Linked DNA regions of Homo sapiens. The protein of the gene in region 3 purifies or fractionates together with the protein of the main gene of each other region. This does not show direct contact. Each region holds a gene or a part of one and is shown on either strand. Other genes may lie near its edges.

Region 1 (3,500 bases), on a different chromosome or scaffold from region 3:
TTTAACATAGGTACGTTAATCAAAGTGACACATCACAGACTGAAAGACAAAACCACATGATCATCTCAATTGACACAAAAAGTATTCAACAAAATCCAACATCCTTTCTTGATAAAAACACTCAACAGTCTGGGTATACAAGAAAAGTCCCTCAACATAATAAAGGTCATTTACAAGTGACCTTTGGCTGAGTCCTCTCCCCACCCATGGTGTTTTAAACTCTCAGACTTGTCCCTATGGAGCCTCTAGTAATTTACCAATTACTGTTCAGGTTTCCCTTCCTCACCATTTGTTTCCATGGAGGGTTCTACTTACAGGTTTGCTCCTGTTAAGTTTTGACTCCCTATATTCATCTCTCTCTCTAATTTTGGAGGGCAGCAATTTGCCCTGTGACCTCAGTTTCAACAAATCTAAAAAGAGTTCTTGATTATATTTCAGTTTGTTTGGCTTTTTACTGTTGTTACAATGGAGTGGAGACTTCTAAGCTTCTTACACACTGGAATGGAAACTGGAAGCCTGTCCATTCTTTTTTATTTTTGTGTTTTCCAGGGTTTCTTGTATAACTTTTGAATGTAGCAAGATCTTAAAGACTTTCACAAAATTTGTTGAACATTTTTGGTAATAGCTTATATATATATAAATAAGCACCTTCTAACCATCAGGCACTCTTCTAAGTGTGTTTACATATATAATCTCATTTAAACCTCACAGAAACTCACACATAAATACTGTTTTTATTCCTGTTTTATAGACAAGGAAGCCAAAGCGCAGAGAGTTTAAGTTTCCTCTCCCAAAGGAGCATAGCCAGTGACTGGTGTAACCAGAGCTCAAACTCAAGATATGCAACTTAAGAACATGTTCATAACCACCATACTCTATTAACCAGCTAACTCCTAAAAGTCCTGATCATGTTTTGACTTCATTCAGTCATAAAGAATTCAAATAGCCCAACAGATTGTTTCTCTTTCTAGTTATTTTTGAAACTGCCAATATGATATTTCAATTTACCACCCAAACATCTGAAATTACTGAAAGGAAAATGACTTTTGAGTATGCATCTCCTGTATATCACTGTAAGAAAAGGATTATGTTTTCACGTAGCTTACATAGAAACTAACGTAGTTTACAGAGAAGCTAATTTTTATACAGAAACTACATGAAAACGTAATTCCAGAAACCCAGGAAGGTCTTCCTTCAACCATCAGAGATGCTCCACATTGGCCAAAATGAACCCAGTACTGGAAAAAGACCTCTAGTTCCTATGAATAGAAACAGGCATGCTATTTTCTATGACAAATTAGTACCGAGTCTTACATAAATATGACTTTAATGGTACTAACGTTTTAAGCCAACCTAGGTTGTTCTGATTCCCGTTCTGAACACTGAGGTTCAACATCATTAACAGACAAGCCAAAGATAATCACTATCCCAAGCGCTTTGCCAGCTGCGTGAGTGAACATGCTGTCTGTTTTAGCAGCAGCCACTTTTTGGTGGCATATTTTGTTCTGTTTCTTTATGGAAATATGGTTTATCTATACCACTAAACTCTTTTCTTTTTCTGGCAACCGATTCAGAGTTGAAAAGTTTATGCCAGACACGGTGGCTCACACCTGTAATCCCAGCACTTTGGGAGGCCGAGGCGGGTGGATCACCTGAGGTCAGGAGTTTGAAATCAGCCTGGGCAACATGGTGAAACCCTGTCTCTACTAAAAATACGGAAAAAAAATTAGCCAGGCATGGTGGCATGTGCCTGTAATCTCAGCTACTCAGGAGGCTGAGGCAGGAGAATCACTTGAACCCGGGATGTGGAGGTTGCAGTGAGCCGAGATCGTGCCACTGCATTCCAGCCTGAGCAACAGAGTGAAACTCTGTCTCAAAAAAGAAAAGAAAAGTTTAGAAAATACTGGATTTTGATTTTATTGGAATTCATAGTGGTAAGTTTAGGATACATGGGCAAGAGGGACAGAGAAGTTTAAATATCAAAATGCAGGATCACCTCTAATCAATATATTCTCCTTTATCAGTCAAAACATAAGGAGAGTTTATGTCATCAGGTAAGCTGTTTGTCCCACCTTACCCTCACATGGCTGAGAAAGGAATCATATTCTAGTTAAATTTGTACAGTGAGGCCAGGTGCGGTGGTTCATGCCTGCAATCCTAGCACTTTGGGAGGCCGAGGTGGGCGGATCACCTGAGGTCAGAAGTTTGAGACCAATCTGACCAACACGGAGAAAACTCATCTCTATTAAAAATACAAAATTAGCTGGGCATGGTGGCACATGCCTATAATCCCAGCTACTTGAGAGGCTGAGGCAGGAGAATTGCTTGAACCCAGGAGGTGGAGGTTGCAGTGAGCCAGTCGCACCATTGCACTACAGCTGGGCAACAAGAGCAAAACTCTATCTCAAAAAAAAAAAAAAAAAGTGTGTACAGTGAGAAAATATATCTCCCAAGGGCACAAATAACACATATCAAACTTATCTGCTCTCCTCTCAAAAAAATTCACTCGTTCCATTCCTTAACATCACATTACAGAACATCATCTTTAAGACATGAACGCTAACCTCTTTTTGGTTTAATAAATTTGTGGATAATAAGCACCTAATGGATTATGGACAGGTTTATAGATATATTTTTGATACAGCACTAATCATTCATTCATTCCTGACATCTGCTCCAGGCTGGTGGTGGTATGGGTGTCAGACTGAGAGTCTGCACGTTAGAGTGTGCCATGTACACCTATGGGGGTAAAGACAACGCGTTCTGAGAGCTCAGAGGAGAGGACAAACAGCAGTGCCTTCTGGAGGTCCTCTGAGAAGTCTTGAAGCAGCAAGCACTAAGGGCCACTACATGTCCCCAAGAAAACCAAACACAAGGATGGCTGAAATGCTGGCCTGACCTAGTTAGACTCTTTCTTTCCAAGAAAGTAAGTATTTCATCAAGTTTTGCAGGTTTATAATGGGTTTGTAGACTTGGCATATAATTGGTCTTAAACTATTTTCAACAATGGTTACGTGTCCAACACTGTACTAGAAGCAGGACCCAGAAATGGGCCTCCTAGGTCTGGCATATTCTAAACCACAGTCTAGTTAGGGTGCATTGGCCAGGGACTGCCTGGATAGTATTGCAGATTGTGCACTGAACAATCCTAAGACACACCATTCCTAATATACACATTGTAGAAATGAATATTCAGCATGCCAGCAAATGGCAGTAAAGAGTCTGGTTTTAACTAAGGCAGTATATCAGGACAATTTCTGAAAGATCGAAATAAAGTATCTTGAGGAGAGGATGCCTTTATTCTAATTCATACAAAAATCCTATGGGCTGCCGACTGCCCTGTTTTTTGTTCATTCAAAACAGGATATAGGGAGGAAGTGGATCACTCAGTGGTGGTCTCCCCAGTCATCAGTACAGGCATCCTTCGGAGTTGCCCTAGAGACGATCCCTTGGGCAAAGGCTAACAGCACTGGAGGACCAGAGGAGGAGCTGAGAGCGTA
Region 2 (3,500 bases), on a different chromosome or scaffold from region 3:
AGCCTAGAACCCTAGAGTAGCAGGGCATCTTGTGCCCTTTTCCATTTTGGTTTGTCTTTGGTTCTCTAACCACCTGGCTCTTGTGTCTCCCCATCCCTGTCTTTTCACTTCGTCACTCTGCCTTGCTCACTGTAGCACCCCTAGCACCCAGTACACAGAGTACACAGTGGGTACCTGCTACTGCAGGTGCCCTTGTGGCCCTCGCCCTGTCTTCATTCATCTCCTCCCTTATGTCCCCACCCAGGTGCTCCAGGAACTGATTTTCTTCCTGCACCGCCTGACCTCAGTGAGCAGGGACTATGCCGTGGTGCTGAATCAGCTGGGAGCAAGAGACGCTATCTCCAAGGCCCTGGAAAAGCACCTGGGAAAGCTGGAGCTGGCTCAGGAGCTGCGGGACATGGTGTTCAAGTGTGAGAAGCATGCCCACCTCTACCGCAAACTCATCACCAACATCCTGGGAGGCTGCATCCAGGTCAGGAGGAAGGGGAGCTTGTGGGCTTAGAGTGGCATCAGAATATGAAACCCAAGCAGTGGCGGGTAAGGGCTGTGTTCCCATGGCTGGGAACAGCAGGTGACTCTAGTGACCCTGGGGCATTTGTTCCCCTTCCCCTCTGCCCCATCTGGGCCTGCTCTGCTGGTGCTGTAGAGGAAGTCCCACTGCTGCATGGTCTCTCCTTCATCCGTGTTTCCGTGTGTGTCTCCGTGTTCCTTCTGCCCCTGTGCCCCTTCTCTCTGATGTTCTGGCTGCAGATGGTGCTGGGCCAGATCGAAGACCACAGACGAACCCACCAACCCATCAACATCCCTTTCTTTGATGTGTTCCTCAGATACCTGTGCCAGGGTTCGTGCCTGTTGCCGTGTTGCTCCACCTCCCCACACCTATGTCTGTTTCCCCTCTACACCCTACCTGACCGTGACCACCACCCCTTCCCACTTGCCCCCAGGCTCCAGTGTGGAAGTGAAGGAGGACAAGTGCTGGGAGAAGGTGGAGGTGTCCTCCAACCCGCACCGGGCCAGCAAGCTGACGGACCACAACCCCAAGACCTATTGGGAGTCCAACGGCAGCGCCGGCTCCCACTACATCACCCTGCACATGCGCCGGGGCATCCTCATCAGGTAACTCTCCCACACATGTGCTTTGCCACACACGTGTGCTTTCCTGTGACGCCCCTGTGTTTGTTTTGGGGGAAGCACCACCCCCTGGACTTGGCCATGGGCCCTGTCTACAAGTTCCAAATGGTTTTTCCTCCCCACTCCCAGGCAACTGACTCTGCTTGTGGCTAGTGAGGACTCGAGTTACATGCCGGCCCGAGTGGTGGTGTGCGGGGGTGATAGCACTAGCTCTCTTCACACGGAACTCAACTCGGTAGGACCCCAGGGCCATTAGCCATTACTCCACCCCTCACAGGATCTGCCCTCCTGCTTCTATCTGGCCCTATCCTACTTTTTTCTAACTCCCACCTGTCTTGAGCCCCACAGAAAGTAGTGTCCTTTATCCCTGTGCTTGTGCCACCAGGCCCTGAACAATGAGGGTGGCATGAGGACAGCTTTGTCAGGACCCTACACATCCCAGGGCTGGGGAAGGGAGGGAAACAGTGAGGGGACTGGAGCCTAGAGCCAACTTGGCTCTGCATGTGTGGAGGTGACAGCTTTCTCTGCCCCCTGCCAGGTGAATGTGATGCCCTCTGCCAGCCGGGTGATCCTCCTGGAGAACCTGACCCGCTTCTGGCCCATCATCCAGATCCGCATAAAGCGCTGCCAGCAGGTGGGGCCAGGGATGTGGGGTGTGGCCCTGGGTAGGGGGCTCTGAGCCCCATAAACAGGCAGATCTTAAGCCAGAGGACCAGCCTGGGTCTCGAGCAGCTCCAGGGGTGAGGTTCGAGGGCGTAGCTGACCCCAGCCCATCCCAAGGTGTGGAGCGAGTGAAGATAGTCCTGTGTGTGTTTCAGGGTGGCATTGATACGCGCATTCGGGGGTTAGAGATCCTAGGCCCCAAGCCCACGTTCTGGCCAGTGTTCCGGGAGCAGCTCTGTCGTCACACACGCCTCTTCTACATGGTTCGGGCACAGGCCTGGAGCCAGGACATGGCAGAGGACCGCAGGAGCCTCCTGCACCTGAGTTCTAGGTGTGTGAGAGTGTGCGTGTATGCTTGTGTCTGTGGGAAAGGTAAGGCTATTGCAAATAGCTGGCAGGCAGGGGTCCATAGAAGCTGTGAGATGGAGGTTTAATATGCGTGGGGAGGGGGCTGGAGTTTTCTGAGCTGTGGGAGGGGAAGAAAGGATAAAGAGAAAAGATTTCTCCAGTGGGCTGGGAATGGGATATACCAGTTAGCACAGAGCAGTTCTGAAGTACCAGGGGGCCTTCGGTTTGGGTGCTGGGGTTAGCTGGCAGTCTTAGGAAGGGTGGACACTGAGATAACATATGCTTCAAGCCCCTGACACCTTCCTCCTCCATTCTCACCCCCAGACTCAACGGTGCTCTGCGCCAGGAGCAGAATTTTGCTGACCGCTTCCTCCCTGATGACGAGGCTGCCCAAGCTCTGGGCAAGACCTGCTGGGAGGCCCTGGTCAGCCCCGTGGTGCAGAACATCACCTCCCCTGGTAACCATCCTGACATCTGGACCCATTACTATCTCAGGGCTTGGTTCCACTAATTAGTTCCTTCTTGCTCTACCCTAGAACCACCTGGATTATGTCCTGGCCCTTTTGGCACCTGCATTTGTAATCCCAGTGCTGTCTTCTCACAGCCCAGGGGCTGCCCCCTTTCCCATGTCTCTCAAGTGTCAGGGGACACCATAAGTGCTGGAGGTGCCTTGTTACCCACTCCCTTTATCATTCTTCTTTTTTTTTTTTTTGAGACAGATTTTCGCTCGTTACCCACGCTGGAGTGCAATGGCATGATCTTGGCTCACTGCAACCTCTGCCTCCCAGGTTCAGGCAATTCTCCTGCCTCAGCCTCCCAAGTAGCTGGGATTACAGGCATGCACCACCATGCCTGGCTAATTTTATTTTATTTTATTTTATTTTTTTGAGACAGAGTTTCGCTCTTGTTGCCTAGACTGGAGTGCAATGGCGCAGTCTCGGCTCACTGCAACCTCTGCCTCCAGGGTTCAAGTGATTCTTCTGCCTCACCCTCCCAAATAGCTGGGATTACAGGCATGGGCCACCATGCCCAGCTAATTTTGTATTTTTAGTAGAGATGGGGTTTCTCCATGTTGGTCAGGCTGGTCTCGAACTCCCAATCTCAGGTGATCCACCCGCCTCAGTCTCCCAAAGTGCTGGGATTACAGGCATGAGCCACCGCGCCTGACCCACACCTGGCTAATTTTATATTTTTAGTAGAGGTGGGGTTTCTCCGTGTTGGTCAGGCTGATCTCGAACTCCCGACCTCAGGTGATCCACCCACCTCAGCCTCCCAAAGTGCTGGGATTACAGGCATGAGCCACCGCACCTGGCCTTTTCTATTTTTTTATGCTTATTTCTTATTTTTAAAGATGGGGT
Region 3 (3,500 bases):
CATCTATCCTATGTCACAGTCTAACTCAGTCACTCACTCAATCATTCATTGAACAGATATCTGCTGATCTCTTTCTACACGCTAGACACCAGAACACATACCTGAACTGTCCTCGCCTTCAGTTGGCTTGCAGCTGAACTCTTGCTTTGGGGCAGGGCTGCTCACCCTTTCCACATCTTGGCATGCATAGACGTGGATAATGTTTACACAGCAGCCTGAGGTAAGCTGGAAGAGACTGGAGGTGTCTATTGAGGCTTGGGGAAAAGAACTCATTACATTTCTTTGTATAATTATTGTAAGAAGAATACACAGTAAAACATTAGAGCCATTAAATATCAAACATGCATAAAATCTACAATTACAGTTTTTATGTTTTTTTTTCCCAGAAACACATAAGATACCTTTGTGAACTGTAACAGCTAACCCTTAAGTGATGCTGATGCCCAAGCATGACATCTCCTTTCATCCCTAGAGCAACCTATTAGCCTTATTTCCCAGATGAGGAAACGGGCACTCAAAGTAAGGAAATGATTTGCTGAAAGTTACACAGCTGCTAAGCAGCAGAGGGGAGGGGTGAACCTAGGTGTGTGGCCTCCCTATCTGCGCCCTGTACCACTGCGCCATCCTGCCATCTTTTGGAATAGCCACCTACGATTCTAGATAAGGACCCTTAAATGATGATCTTTATACATTCTTCTTTTAAAAAATATTTTATTCTATTTTTTTTTTTTTGAGACACATTCTTACTTTGTTGCCCAGCCTGCCCTACTTCCTGGACTCAAGCAATCCTCCTGCCTCAACCTCTTCAGTAGCTGGGATTACAGGCATGCGCCATCAACACCCAGCTATTTTTGTGTAGAGACGGGGTCTCACTGTGTTGCCCAGTCTGGCCTCAAACTCCCGGGCTCAAGCAGTCTTCCTGCCTCAGTCTCCCAAAGTGTTGGGATTATAGGCATGAGCCACCACATCCAGCTTGGTCTCCATACATGCTTAAGAAAGGAAGGTGAGTGGCCAAGCTCCTCGGCCAGGCTTCAGCTGCATCTCTCTGACACACTCCTCCCGCATCCTGGCTCCGACCTCTTGCCATTCCCCCGACTGTGCACTTGTCTTCACTCTGTGACTCTGCATGTACTTTGTGCCCAGAGGCCATGTATTTCTGATGGATTTAGAAGTGGATTCCCATTTCCTTCAGTGTTTAAAACATAGCTCTATGTATATGTACAGTAGCATCTTCTGAGATTTAATGTACAGATAGGAAGTACTTACTTGCTAAAGAAGGGTTGATGGACAGATAACAAGGGCAAGCCTCAAAGGACATGGGTTATTTGAAGGGTTTATTTATAAACAAGCCGGCTCATGAGTACGGTTCACTTTTAGGACTTGAAACTCCCTTCTGAACATGAGTCTTCACTTGTGGTCTCCTTGCTGATTTTTCTGAGTTCCTAGATTTGATGCACAATAAACATACACATCTTGAGTAGTGGGTGCTCCATAAACAGGGAGGGAATTTGAGAACATCCACATTGACCTAGTCTGTCCTGGAGCTGTCCCTTCCTTGGCAGTCAACAGGTACTGGGTTAATGAGCACAGGCTGGTGATTCACCCTGCAGGAGACAGAGCGTTGGTCACGTTTCAGATGAAGCAATTGAACGGTTAGTGCTGATGGAAAGGCTTGTGGTTAGAGTCAGCCCCAATTGGCACATTTTTTTAATGGGCGCCAAAAGCTCCAGGGTGATCCCACAAAGATGTGGTCTTATATCGTGTCTTCCTCCAAGCTGTTGAGTCTTCGTAGACGTGATCTCATCGCATAGCTCCCGAAGTAGGCGGTGGTGGGAGTCTTATCTCCTGTCCCAGGTGGGGTCAGGAAGCACTTCCCTTCTGAACCACCGCTGCCTTCTCTCTGCAACTCTTCCAGGTTGTAAACACTTGCCCTTTCTGGTAGTCCAGGCGCCACTTTAACAAACAGGTCTGTTCTTATTACCATTTTCCAATCTGTCACTTCATGTCCCATGTCCCACATGGGCAGGCAACATGGCCTGCCCATGTGGCGGCACCTCCCCAGGCCTTCCACCTCGTGCTCCTCTGCAGCCCCTTGCCTGTCCCTGCCATCTTGCCATGCCCACGCCTGCATTGCTAAGAACACAGTTTACAGCCTGTGTTTTTTGTGCTGCCATTCTGCTGGCATATGGCCAGGACTGGAAAGCTTGATTCAGTATTAGACCATCATATATGGACAATAAGTGCTTAATTTGTTCTAGGCACTGTGTTAAGGGGGCAGAAGCAACCATGAGTAACATGGATTCAGGCCCTGCCAGGTTCTTCTTGTCCTAAGGGAACCACAGACACACAGCTGAGTGCGATTCAGATCATGGGCACCACAATGCCCTATCCAGAGGTGGGGGACACTCAGTGCTGCATCTCTCTCTGCGGAGTGGCTCTGTGACCATGGCCAGGCTTCCTGCTGCAGAGCAGCCCTGCACGGCCTCCCCCACTGTCCGGGGTCTTTCTGTATCTCCACCCCCCCATTTTTTTTTTTTTTTTTTTTTTTTTTGGAGATGGAGTCACACTTTGTCGCCAGGCTGGAGTGCAGTGGCGTGATCTCGGCTCACTGCAGCCTCCACCTCCCAGGTTTCAAGCAATTCACCTGCCTCAGCCTCCTGAGTAGCTGGAACTACAGGCACACACCACCATACCCAGCTAATTTTTGTATTTTTAGCAGAGACGGGATTTCACCATGTTGGCCAGGATGGTCTCGATCTCTTGACCTCTTGATCCACCTGCCTCGGCCTCCCAAAGTGCTGGGATTACAGGCGTGAGCCACCACGCCCAGCCATCTCCACCCCTTTCTTCTCTGCTGTCTGGGTAACTGTGGACTCCTTTCCGGAGCTCCCCGTTCTACATTTTCAGTTTCCTCCTGCCTGGTTGCCCTCCTCGTTGACCTTCAGAGTGCTCAGCCTTTCTTCTTCTGCTGAAGCCCTTTTTGTGGCCTTTGCCTGTTTTTGCCCTTGTCCCACAGCCAGCCTCAACGGTGTTCTTTTCTCTCTGCTCACCCTCCCTGTTTGCCTACAGCTCTGCGGAGCTGTCCTGAAAGGTGAAGGGGGCGCCTTCATCAGAGCCTCACCGCCCCGCGCCACTGGGCTGCATCTCTTCGGTACCCTCCTGCCTATTCTGTCTCCCCCATCTGAGTGCCTCCAGCTCTGCACCCACAGCCGCCCCCAGCCTGACCTGCTGATGCCGTATGTCCCAGTTTGAAAGCTTCCTCGAATGCCTGCAGACAGGAGCAAAACCCTGGAGAGCCTGGCCCCCATCTGTGGGTCCATCCCCCCATCTCCACCTACCCTTGCGTGCTGCTGCCATGGGCCCATCTTTCCCCAGGCTTCTGCTCTGGCTGTCCCATCTGCCAGGAATGCCTTTTCTCTCCCAGGGCTCTCCACCTGCCCAAAGTCTGGAACAGCTAGCCATGCCACCACCTCATCTTTCGGGTGGAAGGAGGCTTTCTC
Region 4 (3,500 bases), on a different chromosome or scaffold from region 3:
CCAAAGTGCTGGGATTACAGAGTGTGAGCCACCACACCCGGCCAGCAATATAGTACTTTTTAGAAAGATTTGTAGATTAGAGTCCCAGTATACATTGCGGCTCCAACCCATGCCTGCTTTGGAAAACATATTTTCTCTGTGCTAGTATAGTCAAGACACATCAGCCTATATATCCTCATGTTCAGCAAGTGCATGTTAACTGCTTTTGAAATTATTATTACAATAAAGTCTGTTACTCAGGTGCTCTCATCAGATGTTCCTTCAGGAACAGAAACTGAGGAGGAAGATGACGGCATGAATGACATGAATCACGAGGTCATGTCATTAATATGGAGTGAAGATTTAAGGGTGCAGGATGTGCGAAGGCTTCTTCAGAGTGCGCATCCTGTCCGTGTCAACGTAGTGCAGTACCCAGAGCTCAGTGACCACGAGTTCATCGAGGAAAAGGAAAACAGGTGAAAGAAAACACGTGCACTATCTCTTGTCATGTTTCATTGTTACATTTGTGTCTTGTGTATATTTGTTTTTCCTTCAAGTTTTTAGCATTTAAAACCCTAAAGAGATTTAAAAGATACTTTCAAGTGAAAATATGCCCTGTGTTTTAAGTTTTCATCCAACTTCAACAAACCACGTGTGTTAGCAAAATGTCTTTGGCTTTTGAGGACGTAATTGTTGTATTTCATATCGTCCTCCTCTTGAAATACATATAACACTTTACTCTTTAGAAAAGGTGAATGTAAAACTATTTTGCCTGATAGTTACCTTAAGAATTTACAAACAAAGAAAACACTGGACTTGTTTTTCTGTGTCTTGATCAGGAATAGATTTTGAGGTTAGTGGGGTTTTTAGTGTAGTTTAAACTTGTATGAGTATTTTTTTTTTTTGGATATGATAGATGATACTCCAAATAAAAATAGATAAGCCTTTCTTCTGCCACTCCCCTGCACAGGATACATCCCTTGATACATTATAAGACTCACATGCCTATGACATTCCAGAGCTATTCTCTTGGGACACTTCTGTTTTAAAATTCTCTCCTGTTCTTTTATCTGCTTGTCTCTATCATCTATCATTCATCTGCCACTGTTTTCTAGTTCTCTTTACTTTTTTTATGGTACTGTTTTGAGGGGAACCATCACCCACACTTAGCCACAGGCTGCTGAAGATCTGAATTAGTTGTGATTTCCCTATTAACTGTTTCCTCTCCACATGTACCCAGTTATTAGTCACCTGTGAATAAAAAGATGGAGTGACAGAAGTTGAGTTTAGAGCATAGGATTTATGAGCATGGCCTCTAGAGCCAGGCATGGCCATGCTGTGCTGGGTGACTTTGGTTAAATTACTTTACCTCTTGTTGCCTCAGTTGCTTCATTTGTAAAAGTAGGCATACTTCATGGGATGGTGCTGTGTATCAAGTGAATTATTTTTACATAGCACTTAGAATACTGCTCAATACATAGTAAAGCTCAGTGCAGTCAGCCATTATTAGTAGTAGAGTTCATTGATTCTAAGATGCAAGTTTTTTCACTTTTTAATATCTCTGAAATCAGTTGTGTATTTCAGTGAACAGGTGTCATAGTTTAATTGGCAGTGCTTTTTCTTTCTTAGTTTCTCATGAAATAATGATACATCTTATCAGTGGCATCTTATATTCAGGGGATATAATATTGTTCTCATTATAATTTTGTTACTTGCGCAAAGTTGAAGTGAATTATGTGTAAGATTTCCTCTAAAAAAATTCTATGGGTTGCAACAGCCTCTTGGCTTTGAATTTTCCTGATCCCAAATTAATGTTGCGGTTGTGTTCCCAGAGAATCTTTAAGACAGCAAAATTTTTCTTTCCAGTTAGCTAGAAAAGCAGTTATGTGTGTCCAGTTAAGGAGGGAGTATGCTTATGAATAGCTTTGTCTGCAGAGAAAATGTTTGTCAGTTGTCAGCCTCTGAAGGGATATTTCTGTGTCTTCAGATATAGCTTGTATAGGCGTTTCTTAGTTATAAATGCCCTACTTCCAAAATTTCTGTTAGTTTTTTTTAAGTGGCTATATGGAATGTTAAGCTATTTTAACATAGGAAGAAGTTGAAGAGTGGTGTATTAATTTCACAGTAGAGCCAACAGAAACCATTTTAACCTTGAACATACCTGATACATAATGGTATTAGTCCTATAAATCTAGCCATCATGTAAGTGAAACCAATCTGTATTTCCCTTGGAGACACCATGAAATCCATTCACCTCTAACACAAGGACCTTGTTTCTTTTCTTGTGTACAGGCCACAGAAATGGTACTTCTGAGGCTGTATTGGCAAAAGGGATGGGAGGAGGATCCCACATGTACTGAGGACAGCTAGACTGAAATTAACACAGTGATAAAAACCCCAAAAGTACTGTATTTTCCTTTGAGAAGGTTAGCATCCATCGGAGTGGAATTTTAAATTTCTTTTTTTTTTTGAATGCCTAGAGAGAGTCGGCTGGGTTTATAGGCCAGGTGGTTTTCATTCAATGTAAATATGAAACAAAACAGAGGAAATATGTCTCTCCCTAAGAGTGTAATAGGAACAAGAATATTAAAATGAAAATAATCATGTTTGGGTAGTTCACTCACATCTGTGTATGAATTTACTTTGAGACAACTTCATCTTATACAGTACACCTTCTTTTGAAATACTTACAGATGATATTTCAATTGCTCTTTGCTTTAAACATTTTCATATGTTGGTTTTTACTTTAATTACAGATTGCTCCAATTGTGTCAGCGAACTATGGCTCTTCCTGTAGGACGAGGAATGTTTACCTTGTTTTCGTACCATCCTGTTCCAACAGAGCCATTGCCTATTCCTAAATTGAATCTGACTGGTATGTTAAATTCTGGGCTCAATGAGAAAGGAAAATGATTAAGTACATGCATTAAGTGTAGTTCTTTAAATTAGTTAAAACAAAAGAAATGCTCCCTCTATCCCCAGTGATTTAAAATTTTCCTAATAGCTGCTGTAGTGGTTATCAAAGCTCAAATGCCATGTGAAACTAAACTTTGAGAGAAGCAGAATATAGTTCATTACTCATTTTTGCTTTTTAATGAGGTGATTTTAAGATCTAAAAAGTCACTTGGAGAAGTTCAGAAAGATATTATTGATAACGATGAGACTTGAATTTTAAATAATCTTAAGTTTAATATGTAAAAATATTTAGTTTTAAAATGTCTTACGTCATAGTTTAAACAGATGATCATTGTATAAATCAAGAAATGTACTAAGCAAAAAGAGAAACAATGGTCGCTTGCAGTACTCCCACTCTTCTGCATCACTCCTTTTAACATTTTAGTATATATGTTTACTAAGTTTATTTCCACATATTTATAATTTTATATTTGTTTAATTATCAGAAAATTTATATCTATTTTAGATTTTTTTAAAAATTTACAGTGAACATCCTTTTATATCTAGCAAATAAATGTATGTGTTTATAATTATGTGTATGTATTGTATACACGTGTTTTTAATCA
Region 5 (3,500 bases), on a different chromosome or scaffold from region 3:
CCCAATTTTGATACACTCTCTATGGAAGACAGACGGTTCCACCAAATTCCAACCACCTCTAAATGCTAAAGCAAAAAAAAAAAAAAAAAAAAAAAATTAAAAAAAAGTTTGCTTTAGGGTGATGGAAGGAGTCACATGTGATTTTGTGTTTTACCATCCCAGGCTCTTGAGTCGAACTGCCTGGATTCAAATCCGGCTCCACCACTCACTGCTTCATGACCTTGAGATACTGACTTAATCCTGTTAAGCCTCAGATGCCTCATTTGTAAAACTTGGATAATAATACCTACTTATAGGGCTGTTGACAGGACTCAGCGAGACATTATAAGGGAAGTCCTTAATATAGAGATTGGTGCAGGCAGGCAAAGTGCTCTGCAAAACTCATTACAACTATCCTTATTGCCACTACTGTTCCTATCACTGTAGATATCCATACTTTCAATGGCAAAAACTGCAATTACTTTTGCATCAACCTAACAGATCCATCCCTACCCACCTGGGGCAAAATAACAGCCCCTGGACCCTCAGGACAGAGAAGGGAGAGATTAAGCACCCGTTCTTCCACTGCCTATCCCTTTCCACTCCGAATTCAGCTCCTCCTCTTCCCTAACCTTAACAGGGGCCCTTGAAAGTCTCTGATCTGAGGCTCATAACTAAGCACTCAACACGTGCTGCACATTCCTTCCTTGCCCAAGTAATGATCACTCACGATGTGCCAGGCCCATTGCCATGTTCAGAACTACAAAGATGAATAAGACAATTCCTGCCCTCCTTGCAGCGGGGAAGGCCAGATCCAGATCTTACAACCTCACAGCTAACACCTCTGAGCACCTGCGGGCAGACCGGAGCAGGGCAAGGGCTCGCAGCATTGAGGGGCACAGAGTCCAGGGCATGGCAGGCCGGGGACGGCGATGGGTGACAAGGCGGGTCTGGGAGACTGCAAGTGCTGGTGATGGGGAAGCTGAGCCTGCGTCCCATGCCTGCTGAGCCCGCGGAGACCTCCTGCTTTCAGACCCACGCATCTCCACCCTCCACTAAACCACTTAAGGAGATTAATTTGTCTGCTGACTGAACAGCGGCACTAATCACATAACCTGCTTAGCGTCTAAGCTCTGCCTGGCATTGCTTGCTGCAGGGAAGGCTTCTGGAGATGGCATGAAGGAAATGCCATCCCGAGACCTGTGTGTGCCCAGCCTAATGTGCTGTCTGAGGCCCACAAGCCCCAAAGACACTGTTAGGGAGGGGAGAGGAGGGGGTCACTTCACAGGACATAGCTGGGGTCTGAGTGTCCTGACTTGGCTTAATATTGATATCAGAGGCATGCTCTTTGAGCCTTGTTAGAGGTTCCACCTGCACCCCCTCCTCTCCAGGGAACAATTTTCTGAGGCTTGCCACCTGCTATAGTAGGGCGCTTGCTTTTATTTTGAGAGCACTCAGCAAGACTCCCTTCCTGATGAGGGAAACCCAGGGATCTCTCGGCTCCTCTTCTAAGGAAACCACTGGCACTCAAAGCCTTTCGTTAACAAGGAAACCTCATTTCCCTACCATGCTCCCACTGGCCCTTGTACACACATGGATAATTCTGGGCACAGCAGCACCACTCCTGCCCATGCCTGGAGCCACAGAGCTGACATGGGTCTGGCTGCTTCTAGCTGGCCTCACCTGGAGCCAGGAGCACCAGCTTTTTGTAGACAGAACTCAGCACATGGATAACAGTGTGCGTTCTGAGCAGGTGGTCCTTGTGCCAGTCCTGGTCTTGCCATTTCACTCTGTGGGACTAACCTCAGACAAGTCTTTTAACCTCACTGTGCCTCACTTTTTTCATCTTTAAGATGGGGATAAAAGGGGCTGGACTTGGTGGTTCACGCCTGTAATCCCAGCACTTTGGGAGGCCAAGGTGGGTGGATCAACTGAGGTCAGGAGTTCGAGACCAGCCTGGCCAACATGGTGAAAGCCCGCCTCTACTAAAAATACAAAAAAAAAAAATTAGCCAGGCATGGTGATGTGCACCTGTAATTCCAGCTACTCGGGAGGCTGACGCAGGAGAATCGCTTGAACCCAGGAGGTGGAGGTTGCAGTGAGCCAGATGGTGCCACTGCACTCCAGCCTGGGTGACAGAGTGAGACTCCATCTCAAAAAAAAAAAAAAAAGGAGATTAAAAATAGCACCCACTTCCCAGAGGTGTTGTAAGGCTTAAATGAGTAAATATGCAGAGAAGTACCTAAATCCTAAACACCTGTACGCTATATATCATAGCTATGATTATTGTGAGCTATTTTTACTGTGGCCAGGAAAGCCAAGAAGGCCCAGGTGAGTTTACTGAGCATCCTACTCAGTCCTGACCTTCACACCCAGAGCCAGATGGGGTTGGTGGGGCCCCAAGCACCAGGAGTTGGCATGAATGTGCATGCTGAACTGCCTCCCAGCCTAAGGCATGACAATAAGGGGGTTGGGTTCCGGGGCCAGAAACACTCAGGTTCCTATCCCTGCTTCCTCACTTGTTGGCTGGGTGACCTAAGGCAAGTGACATCACCTCTCTGAATCTCCAATTCCTCACCAGTGAAATGGACAGAATAGAAATAACTGATTTCACCATGTATCAAGCACATTACCCAACTCATAATATATCCCCAATAAAAGTTAACTATTATGATTTATTATGTGGTTGCTGCTAAAGATAAAAAGGTTTTCTCCTAATAAATCTTAGCTGTCAATGTCAGCATCATCTTCTATTTTGAAGATTCCAACTTAAATTCCGGCCAACACCAAAATGTTCTTTCTGACCCCATGCAGAATGGGAGTCAGATCATATCATTCCTGGCTTCAAACGGTCACATGGGTCCCCAGTGCAATTAGGATAAAATCCAAACTCCTTAGCACAGCCCACCAGGCCTTTCAGGATCTGGACTCTTGCCTAGTTCTCCAGCCTCACTGGTAACCCCCTACCTCTGACTCATGGCTTCCTGGCTCCCCTTCTAGTCCCTTGCTCTGACCTCAGAGATTTTGCTCTTGCTTTTCCCAAGGCTGGCTCCATCTCACCATTCAAGACACCCTCAAATGTCATCTTCTTTCACAACCCAACCTGCCCTGGCAGTCCCACCTCTAACCAGAAAGGCTGGATCACATTCCCTGTTTTATTTTCTTTGTAGTGCTTGTTTGGTTGCAGGTTTATTCCCTGTGCCTCCATTTGAACATAAGCTTCATGAGAACAGGGACCCTGTCTGTCTTCAACACAGAATCCTTAGTGACCAACCCAGTGCCTGGCACCCAGCATATCTATAATCATGAATAGATGAATCCATGTATATCCATTAGCACAGGATGACCTGACATTTAGTTTTATGAGGTGCTAAATGTCTGTTGGAGGACAGAATCTACTACTGAAAACCCTTCACACAGGACCTCAAAAATACTGAGTTAATAAACATCCACTGAATAAATATACTTGCCATACAAAGACCCAGCACACAGAAGCAGTCAGTAAATATCGACTAGAATGA
Region 6 (3,500 bases), on a different chromosome or scaffold from region 3:
GGACCCCTTTATTGTCAGTATCACTGATGGCTTCCTATAAGTACATCTGTTAGGAAAAAGAACTTTCAGTAGTTAATGGAAATTAGAATGCAACTGTCGGCCAGGCACAGTGGCTGACACCTGTAATCCCAGCACTTTGGGAGGCCCAGGCAGGTGAATCACGAGGTCAAGAGATTGAGACCATCCTGGCCAACATGGTGAAACCTTGTCTCTACTAAAAAATACAAAATTAGTTGGCATGGTGGGACCTGTAGTCCCAGCTACTCAGGAGGCTGAGACAGGGGAATCACTTGAACCCAGGAGGCAGAGGTTGCAGTGAGTCGAGATCGTGCCACTGCATTCCAGCCTTGCAACAGGGCGAGATACCATCTCAAAAAAGAGAAAAGAATGCAACCCTCTTTAAGCAAGTTGACATATCACAGCCTCTGGTTGAGAAAGCATGCGTTAAAGTTCTTGCCAAGCAGCCATGCTGGGAAATACAAGGTGTCATTAGAGAGTGGCCCCACTTTATTACCCTAAACTGCCTCCCAGAATTCTGGGAGCATTTCCCCCACTGGACTGTCCTATAGGATACCAGCTCTTCCTTTGCACTAGCCCCAAAGTCTCAAAGGGAAATTCTACTGTAAAAACAAAAAACTAGCACCTCTTTACTATAAGACATAGTTGACTGTGGAATCTGGAATGCTCTGTGAAGGGTACTCTCTGACATCCCCTAAAACCAGTGTGTTCACCAAGGGACTCCCATACCACTGAGGCCTATCCTCAGTCCCTGGCTGATGCTGGCACACTACCTCTCTGGCCACATACCTGTCTTGCAGAAATGCCCCAGTGATGACTGCCAGACTCACCTCTGCTAGTAGAAATGGGCCTAAGTCTCTCTGTGGACTGTATCCGTGAAATTTCTTTGCTACCACTCATCCATACCAGCTGATACCTCACAAGGAGCTGATACCTCATTAGCTAACTACAGCTAAGGCTCCTCATCTGGACTCAGCCCTGGATGGTTTCACAGAATCCATGAATCCTAAAAATTGTGTGCAATATTCTGTGTGTTTATGTCTGGAGAAAGTTTACTTAACTTTTGTAAGAGGTAGGATGATCAGGTCAGTGTCACTCACTCTTTGCTCTAACAAGGCAACTAGCCCTCCTCCTGGATGGTTTACGTTTTCCTCCCCAGACAGGCATGTGGGAAAAAGACTCTGTTCTCAGCAGTCTCTACCACAGCTGCCCAGGGGCTGGCAGGAGCTCTGGTCTTCTCCAGGTTCTTAGCACCAAGCACTTAGAGCTCTCAGAACAATTCCAAGGCCAGAGTAGGATGTGGCCAGAGGAGCTGCCCAGCCTCAGCCTGATCAGATGAAGCAAGTGCTTCCTTACAGAGGTGGCTGAAGACCCTGTTCTCCACGGTGGGGGGTGCCATGTGGCCCTGGCCACTTAACTCAGTTCTCTTTGCTTTATTTGTTTGTTTGCGACGGAGTCTCACTCTGTTGCCCAGGCTGGAGTGAAGTGGTGCAATCTCGGCTGACTGCAGCCTCCGCCTCCCAGGCTCAAGAAAGTCTCTTGCCTCAGCCTCCTGGGTAGCTGGGACTACAGGCACCTGCCACCATGCCCGGCTAATTTTTGTATTTATAGTAGAGATGGGGTTTCACCATGTTGGTCAGGCTGGTATCGAACTCCTGACCTCAGGTGATCCACCCACCTCAGCCTCCCAAATTGCTGAGATTACAGGCGTGAGCCACCATACCTGGCCAACTCAGTTCTCTTTGCTAATGGTGCTAAGGAAGCCATATAGTTTAGTTGCTAAAATCCAGTGGTTTGTTCTGGAGTCAAACCACCTCAGTCTGGCTCCCATCCCTGTTATTTATAAGCTGTGTGACTTCGGGGAGTCATCAGCCTCTCTGGGCTTCAGTGCCCTTATCTGTAAAGTAGGGGATAAAACAGGCACTTAATTCACTGCAGTGTTGTGAAGATGAAACAGCATAGGCCTTCTAAAATGATGAACACAGTGCTTAGCACAGAAGGAGTGCTTGTGAATGCTAACATCACTGTTGCTATTACTGTTTGTCTCCTTTGATCCACTGCTCTCCCTTTGATCTGCAGGTGGCAGCTTTGGCTATCGCAAGTGGCAATGGCTTGTTACTCAAAGGAGGGAAGGAGGCTGCACACAGCAACCGGATTCTCCACCTCCTGACCCAGGAGGCTCTCTCAATCCATGGAGTCAAGGAGGCCGTGCAACTGGTAGGTCCCTGGGAATGCACCAAGTCAGGCCCAGAGGGGCCAGATCAGGTGTTTGGGAATTTAAAGCAAAACTTAGGCCACACAGAGCCAAGACACTACTACAAGCAGACTTGACACTCCAGCAGGCCTGTGAGCCTTCAGACTTTAGGCCATTCTGCAGAGCCAGATGGGTCCTCAGTGGCTTAGGAAGGCCCCTCCCTTACAGCTGCGTCTTGGCACTATTTATTTACAAGAATGTCAATTAGACCTTCATTCTTTGGGTCACAAGGCAGCAGGAGTACCAGAACTAGAGTGTGAGGCCTAGGTTCCTGTCATTGGCAGAGTGATCTAGGGTAAGTCAGATGAGAAACTTTACAAAAGTTTGTCATAAACTGTCATGCGGTGTGTTGAGTATGAGATCATGCTGTTATCACTATTATTATTAAGGTCATCACTTTAACTGACCATTTCTCATTCTCCTCAACTGTCAAATGAAGTTTGATAATAATAGCTACTACTTGTTGAGTACCTACTATGTGCAAGGCTCATTTTATCCGTTAACTCATTTGATCGTCACAGCAGTCCCATAAGGAAAATATCATTAATTATTAGACTCATTTTCTACATTGGGAAAAAACAGATTCAGAGGTAAAGTAATTCCCCAAGAGTCACATGGTGTGTGATAGAGTTTAGATTTGGACCTAGGCTGACTCCAGATCCTTTTTTTTCTTTGGCTCATTTGCTCCAACATTCCAGGATTCTGTTGGCTACTGGGAGGATGTCTACAAACCTGCTCATTACACACTCAGTGACCAGAATCTGGTTTTTTTCTTATGCCCACATAGTGGTTGGAAAGAGCGCAGATTTTAGGGATTCAAATCCCAGCCCCACCACTTCCTAGCTTACACAGGTGCCCTCCCTCCTTTTCTTCCTATTGATGTGTAACATACGTACAGTAAAGTATACAGATCCTGTGAACCACTCTGCGACTGTTCACACACACACATGTATAACCACCAGCCGTATCAAGATACAGAACAGTCCAACATCCTGGAGGGCCCCCTTGTGCCCTTCCCAGTCAATATGTAGCCCCCTTCCCCACAAACTACTTTTTTGACTTCTGTCACATTAAATTACTTTTGCCTTTTTTTTTTTTTTTGAGACATGGTCTTGCTCTGTTGCCCAGACTGGAATTCAGTGGCACAATCTTGGCTCTCGGCTCACTGCAGCCTCAGCCTCCTAGGCTCAAGCAGTCCACCCACCTCAGCTTTCCTAGTAGTTGGGAC
Region 7 (3,500 bases), on a different chromosome or scaffold from region 3:
TTACTGCTGTCAGTCTACGCTTATTCTCCGTGAACGAGCAAGTGTCCCAAGGTCCTTTGAGGGACCAGGGTCTGAGGCACTGGGCTGCTGGATGTGTGCAGCTTATGGTAGCATTGTGTTTTGCTTCTCATGAGAACCTTGTGGGAGCCAGTTCTCACCCCATACTCAGCAGGCTGAGGTCAGGGTAGCTGTTTATGGCTTACTTTTTTTAAATTTATTTTTATTTATTTATTTGTTTATTTATTTATTTATTTTGAGACAAGGTCTTGCCTTGTTGCCCAGGCTGGAGTGCAGTGCACCCTAGACCTCCCGGACTCAAGGCATCTTCCTACCTCAGCCTCCTGAGTAGCTAGGACTACTTAAGAGGAAGCAGGGGAGGAAGGGGACGTGGAGGTGGGGGGTCCTCTCTAGGTTGCCCAGGCTGTTCTTCTGGGCTCAAGTGATCTTCCTGCCTCAGCCTCCCAAAGTGCTGGGATTACAGGTGTGAGCCACTGTGCCCGGCCTACTGGTTTATTTTTTAAAGCACATGGCACCATCTTACTGTGAACTATCTTTTCTCCTCAGCACATTCCCACATTTGGGAGTAATAGTTAGCTGGAAATACTGTGGGTCTTTTAATTTAAACTTTTGTTTAGTTGTAAATTTCAAGCTCATTGGACAACACAAACAGCAGTTTTATCTTGAGATGCAAGTTTATGCTGTGCATCAGAGCAACGGTATTAGCTGACGCTACTCATCCATTCAGCATATATTAAAATTTATTGAGCACCTATCTTGAGGCCATGCTCTATTCCAGGTCTTGGGGATACATAGTGAACAGGACAGACAGGAACCTCTGCCTCCCTGGAGCAGACAATGTAGTAGAAGGAGGCAGGGAGTGAATGAAGTAAATAAGCAAGTACTAGGGAGAGAATCAAGGTAGAGAAAGGGAATGGAGCCCTGGGGCTGGGGGTGGCAGAGAGATTTCCAGTTTTAAATTGGGTGATCAGGGAATGTCCCACCTAGAAGATGCATTTGAGCAAAGGCAGGCAGGAGACTGGACCATGTGTTTTCCCAGGGAAATGGTGTTCTTGGCAGAGCAGACAGCAAGCACAGAGTCCCTGTAGGCCTGGTCTGTGCTGGGCACTGTACTGAACACTTGATGCTGACTATTGAATTGACTGGTCACAGCATCCTTGGAAGCTGGTTCTGCCATTATGCCCATTTTACTGATGAGAAAACGGAAGCTCAGGGAGATTAAATTACTTACTGGCGGTGTCACAGGTCATATTGGGTACTGCTGGGACTTGAACCTGACAGTTCAGTTCAGCCTCAGGGCCCATGTGTCTAACCAGCATTGCCAAACAGTCTCCCAAGCAGAGATTTGGAAGCCTATTTTATTTATTTATTTTTATGGTTTTTTTTTAATTGAGATGAAATTCACATAATGTAAAATTAACCATTTTGAAGTGAACAATTCAGTGGTGTTTAATATTAATACATTCACAACGTTGTACAATGAACACCTCCGTCCAGTTCCAAAATGTTTTCGTCAACCCAAAAGGAAACCCCATACCCATAAAGCAATTGCTCCCTGTTTCCCCCATCCCCTCCCAGCTCCTGGCAACAACCAATGTGCATTCTGTCCCTATGGCATTTACCTATTCTGGAATTTCATTTAGAAACGGAATCGTGTATTTTATTCATTTTTTGTATAAACTTCACAGATAAGCAAGCACGCACAGTGAAAATCGAGCCTCTTTCCCTGGTCTGTCTAGTCAAGTGTTCTGGGTGTAATAAGCATGTGTGTGTTTCTGCCAGCCCCAGTGGTGGCATGCTGTTCCACTGCACAGCGTCTTGGCAGTGGCTCTACATCAGCATGTGTTCAGCTGGCTATACGTGGCTGCTGTGCAATGTGCCTAGGTCACCTAAGGTCACCTAAGCAGCCCTCACTGATGGGCCTTTGGAATGTACCCACCTACAAGGGGCAGGCGTAGCTGCAAGATGAGCTCCCAGGAGTGGGACTGTGGGGCTGCGTGGTTTGTGTCCTTTAGGTGTGGCTTGGTTGCTTCCTGCAGAGCTCATGCCAGGGCTGAGCTGCCAGCTATGTAGGAGAGGGTTTGCTCCACACCTGCTTTGGTGGCAGAGCTTCCATCTGCTCTTCTGCGACCTACCTTGGGGCAGAGGAGGAAGTCTTTCGGTCTGAAGATTGGCAGTCATTGCCTGGCCCTGTGTGGGGACCATGAAGAGACCACATGCTCCTCCAGACCACTCCTCCCTTGTCGGTAGCCTGAGGAGGCTGGACAGCTGAGGGGCTCCCTCCCACAGATACTTTTTCCTCCCCTACATCTGGTATTACTTGAAAGATTTTGTCTACCCAACACGCTACATTTGTTAAATAATGGTTAGATTCTACTTCCAAACAGAAGAATGTTTAATGGTGCAGGGCGCTTGGCAGTGAGAGTCAGAGTGACACAACTCCCCATGAGAGGTGATGTCACTCAGGCCAAAAGCAAAGCAAAGTAGATGTTTGGGTTAGCTTGGGCCCCTTCCTAGGTTGAACTGAAGGTGTCCCTTTGGGCATTTGACTTTGTGGGAAGAGCTTGTGAATCCCTGTTGCCACCTTTGTAAGCCCTTAGAGTCTCAAGATGCCCAGTTTCCAGTTACTGATTAACTTGGCACGGGAACTCTCCTGGCACTTTCCATGGCTGGTCTTTGTGGGTTTAGTAAAATAGGATCCTACAGAGGCGTGTCTCTTTCCCTACTCTGCTGGGCCTACTTCCTCCTCCAGCCATCCTCCCCACCCCCTGTCCCCGTTGCCTCTTTGTGTCTCTCTGTCCATGTTGTTGGGTTTTTGGTCTTCTAGGCGTTGCTCCTGGCCTACACCACCTAGTGCAGTGTGGCTTCTGTTTTAGCACCACTGCTGACACTGCAGAGGTGGGGTGCAGAGGGCACCGTGCCTTTGTTAGTTGTGCCCCACCGTCTCCTCCATGTGATCCACCTATCTTCCTCACACTGGTCCTCTTCTCCCTTTCTAAGGAAAAAGGACACAAGCCGGGTGTGGTGGCTCACACCTGTGATCCCAGCGACTCAAGAGACTGAGGCAGGAGAATTGCTTGAGCCCAGGAGTTTAAGACCAGCCTGGGCAACATAGTGAGACCCCATCTCTACAAAAAACACAAAAATTAGCCAGGCATGGTGGTGCACACCTGTAGTCCCAGCTACTTGGGAGGCTGAGGTGGGAAGATTGCTTGAGCCCAGGAGGCTGAGGCTGCAGTGAGATATGATCATGCCACTGCACTCCAGCCTGGGTGACAGAGGGAGACCCTGTCTCAAAACAAAAACAAAAACAAAAAACCCCACAAATAAACCACTTGTCATAGGCTGGGTTTCCTGGGAAGCTGACTGAGACAGAGTTGACCATACAAGGGCTTATTAAAAGGTGCTTTTGGGGTCCCCACCTGTGGAAGATGGAGAAGGAATCAGGAGTGGGTAGAGGAGAGCTGAGCTGCTGGGACCTG

What was found.
Region 1: the proteins of LATS2 (region 3) and CPVL purify together in Homo sapiens (affinity purification with mass spectrometry; 2 studies listed by BioGRID and IntAct, with this or other methods). This does not show direct contact.
Region 2: the proteins of LATS2 (region 3) and CUL7 purify together in Homo sapiens (affinity purification with western blotting; 2 studies listed by BioGRID, with this or other methods). This does not show direct contact.
Region 4: the proteins of LATS2 (region 3) and ANAPC1 purify together in Homo sapiens (affinity purification with mass spectrometry; 3 studies listed by BioGRID and IntAct, with this or other methods). This does not show direct contact.
Region 5: the proteins of LATS2 (region 3) and WWC1 purify together in Homo sapiens (affinity purification with western blotting; 2 studies listed by BioGRID). This does not show direct contact.
Region 6: the proteins of LATS2 (region 3) and ALDH18A1 purify together in Homo sapiens (affinity purification with mass spectrometry, with the first as the bait; one large-scale study listed by BioGRID). This does not show direct contact.
Region 7: the proteins of LATS2 (region 3) and LIMD1 purify together in Homo sapiens (affinity purification with mass spectrometry; 3 studies listed by BioGRID and IntAct, with this or other methods). This does not show direct contact.

Annotation. Positions count from the first base shown.
Region 1 is NC_000007.14:29,059,538-29,063,037, forward strand, and holds part of CPVL (probable serine carboxypeptidase CPVL isoform b precursor), read right to left. Parts: intron 1-3,500. UniProt on the Homo sapiens protein: May be involved in the digestion of phagocytosed particles in the lysosome, participation in an inflammatory protease cascade, and trimming of peptides for antigen presentation.
Region 2 is NC_000006.12:43,043,852-43,047,351, reverse strand, and holds part of CUL7 (cullin-7), read left to right. Parts: intron 1-244; coding exon 245-472; intron 473-750; coding exon 751-841; intron 842-944; coding exon 945-1,116; intron 1,117-1,260; coding exon 1,261-1,366; intron 1,367-1,669; coding exon 1,670-1,765; intron 1,766-1,949; coding exon 1,950-2,125; intron 2,126-2,205; exon of another isoform or gene 2,206-2,466; coding exon 2,467-2,600; exon of another isoform or gene 2,601-3,500. UniProt on the Homo sapiens protein: Core component of the 3M and Cul7-RING(FBXW8) complexes, which mediate the ubiquitination and subsequent proteasomal degradation of target proteins. Core component of the 3M complex, a complex required to regulate microtubule dynamics and genome integrity.
Region 3 is NC_000013.11:20,992,087-20,995,586, reverse strand, and holds part of LATS2 (serine/threonine-protein kinase LATS2), read left to right. Parts: intron 1-386; exon of another isoform or gene 387-498; coding exon of another isoform or gene 499-519; intron 520-3,500. UniProt on the Homo sapiens protein: Negative regulator of YAP1 in the Hippo signaling pathway that plays a pivotal role in organ size control and tumor suppression by restricting proliferation and promoting apoptosis.
Region 4 is NC_000002.12:111,818,194-111,821,693, reverse strand, and holds part of ANAPC1 (anaphase-promoting complex subunit 1), read left to right. Parts: intron 1-228; coding exon of another isoform or gene 229-240; coding exon 241-455; intron 456-2,271; coding exon of another isoform or gene 2,272-2,293; exon of another isoform or gene 2,294-2,405; intron 2,406-2,735; coding exon 2,736-2,854; intron 2,855-3,500. UniProt on the Homo sapiens protein: Component of the anaphase promoting complex/cyclosome (APC/C), a cell cycle-regulated E3 ubiquitin ligase that controls progression through mitosis and the G1 phase of the cell cycle.
Region 5 is NC_000005.10:168,424,145-168,427,644, reverse strand, and holds part of WWC1 (protein KIBRA), read right to left. Parts: intron 1-3,500. UniProt on the Homo sapiens protein: Regulator of the Hippo signaling pathway, also known as the Salvador-Warts-Hippo (SWH) pathway.
Region 6 is NC_000010.11:95,615,212-95,618,711, reverse strand, and holds part of ALDH18A1 (delta-1-pyrroline-5-carboxylate synthase), read left to right. Parts: intron 1-2,097; coding exon 2,098-2,235; intron 2,236-3,500. UniProt on the Homo sapiens protein: Bifunctional enzyme that converts glutamate to glutamate 5-semialdehyde, an intermediate in the biosynthesis of proline, ornithine and arginine.
Region 7 is NC_000003.12:45,597,751-45,601,250, forward strand, and holds part of LIMD1 (LIM domain-containing protein 1), read left to right. Parts: intron 1-3,500. UniProt on the Homo sapiens protein: Adapter or scaffold protein which participates in the assembly of numerous protein complexes and is involved in several cellular processes such as cell fate determination, cytoskeletal organization, repression of gene transcription, cell-cell adhesion, cell differentiation, proliferation and migration.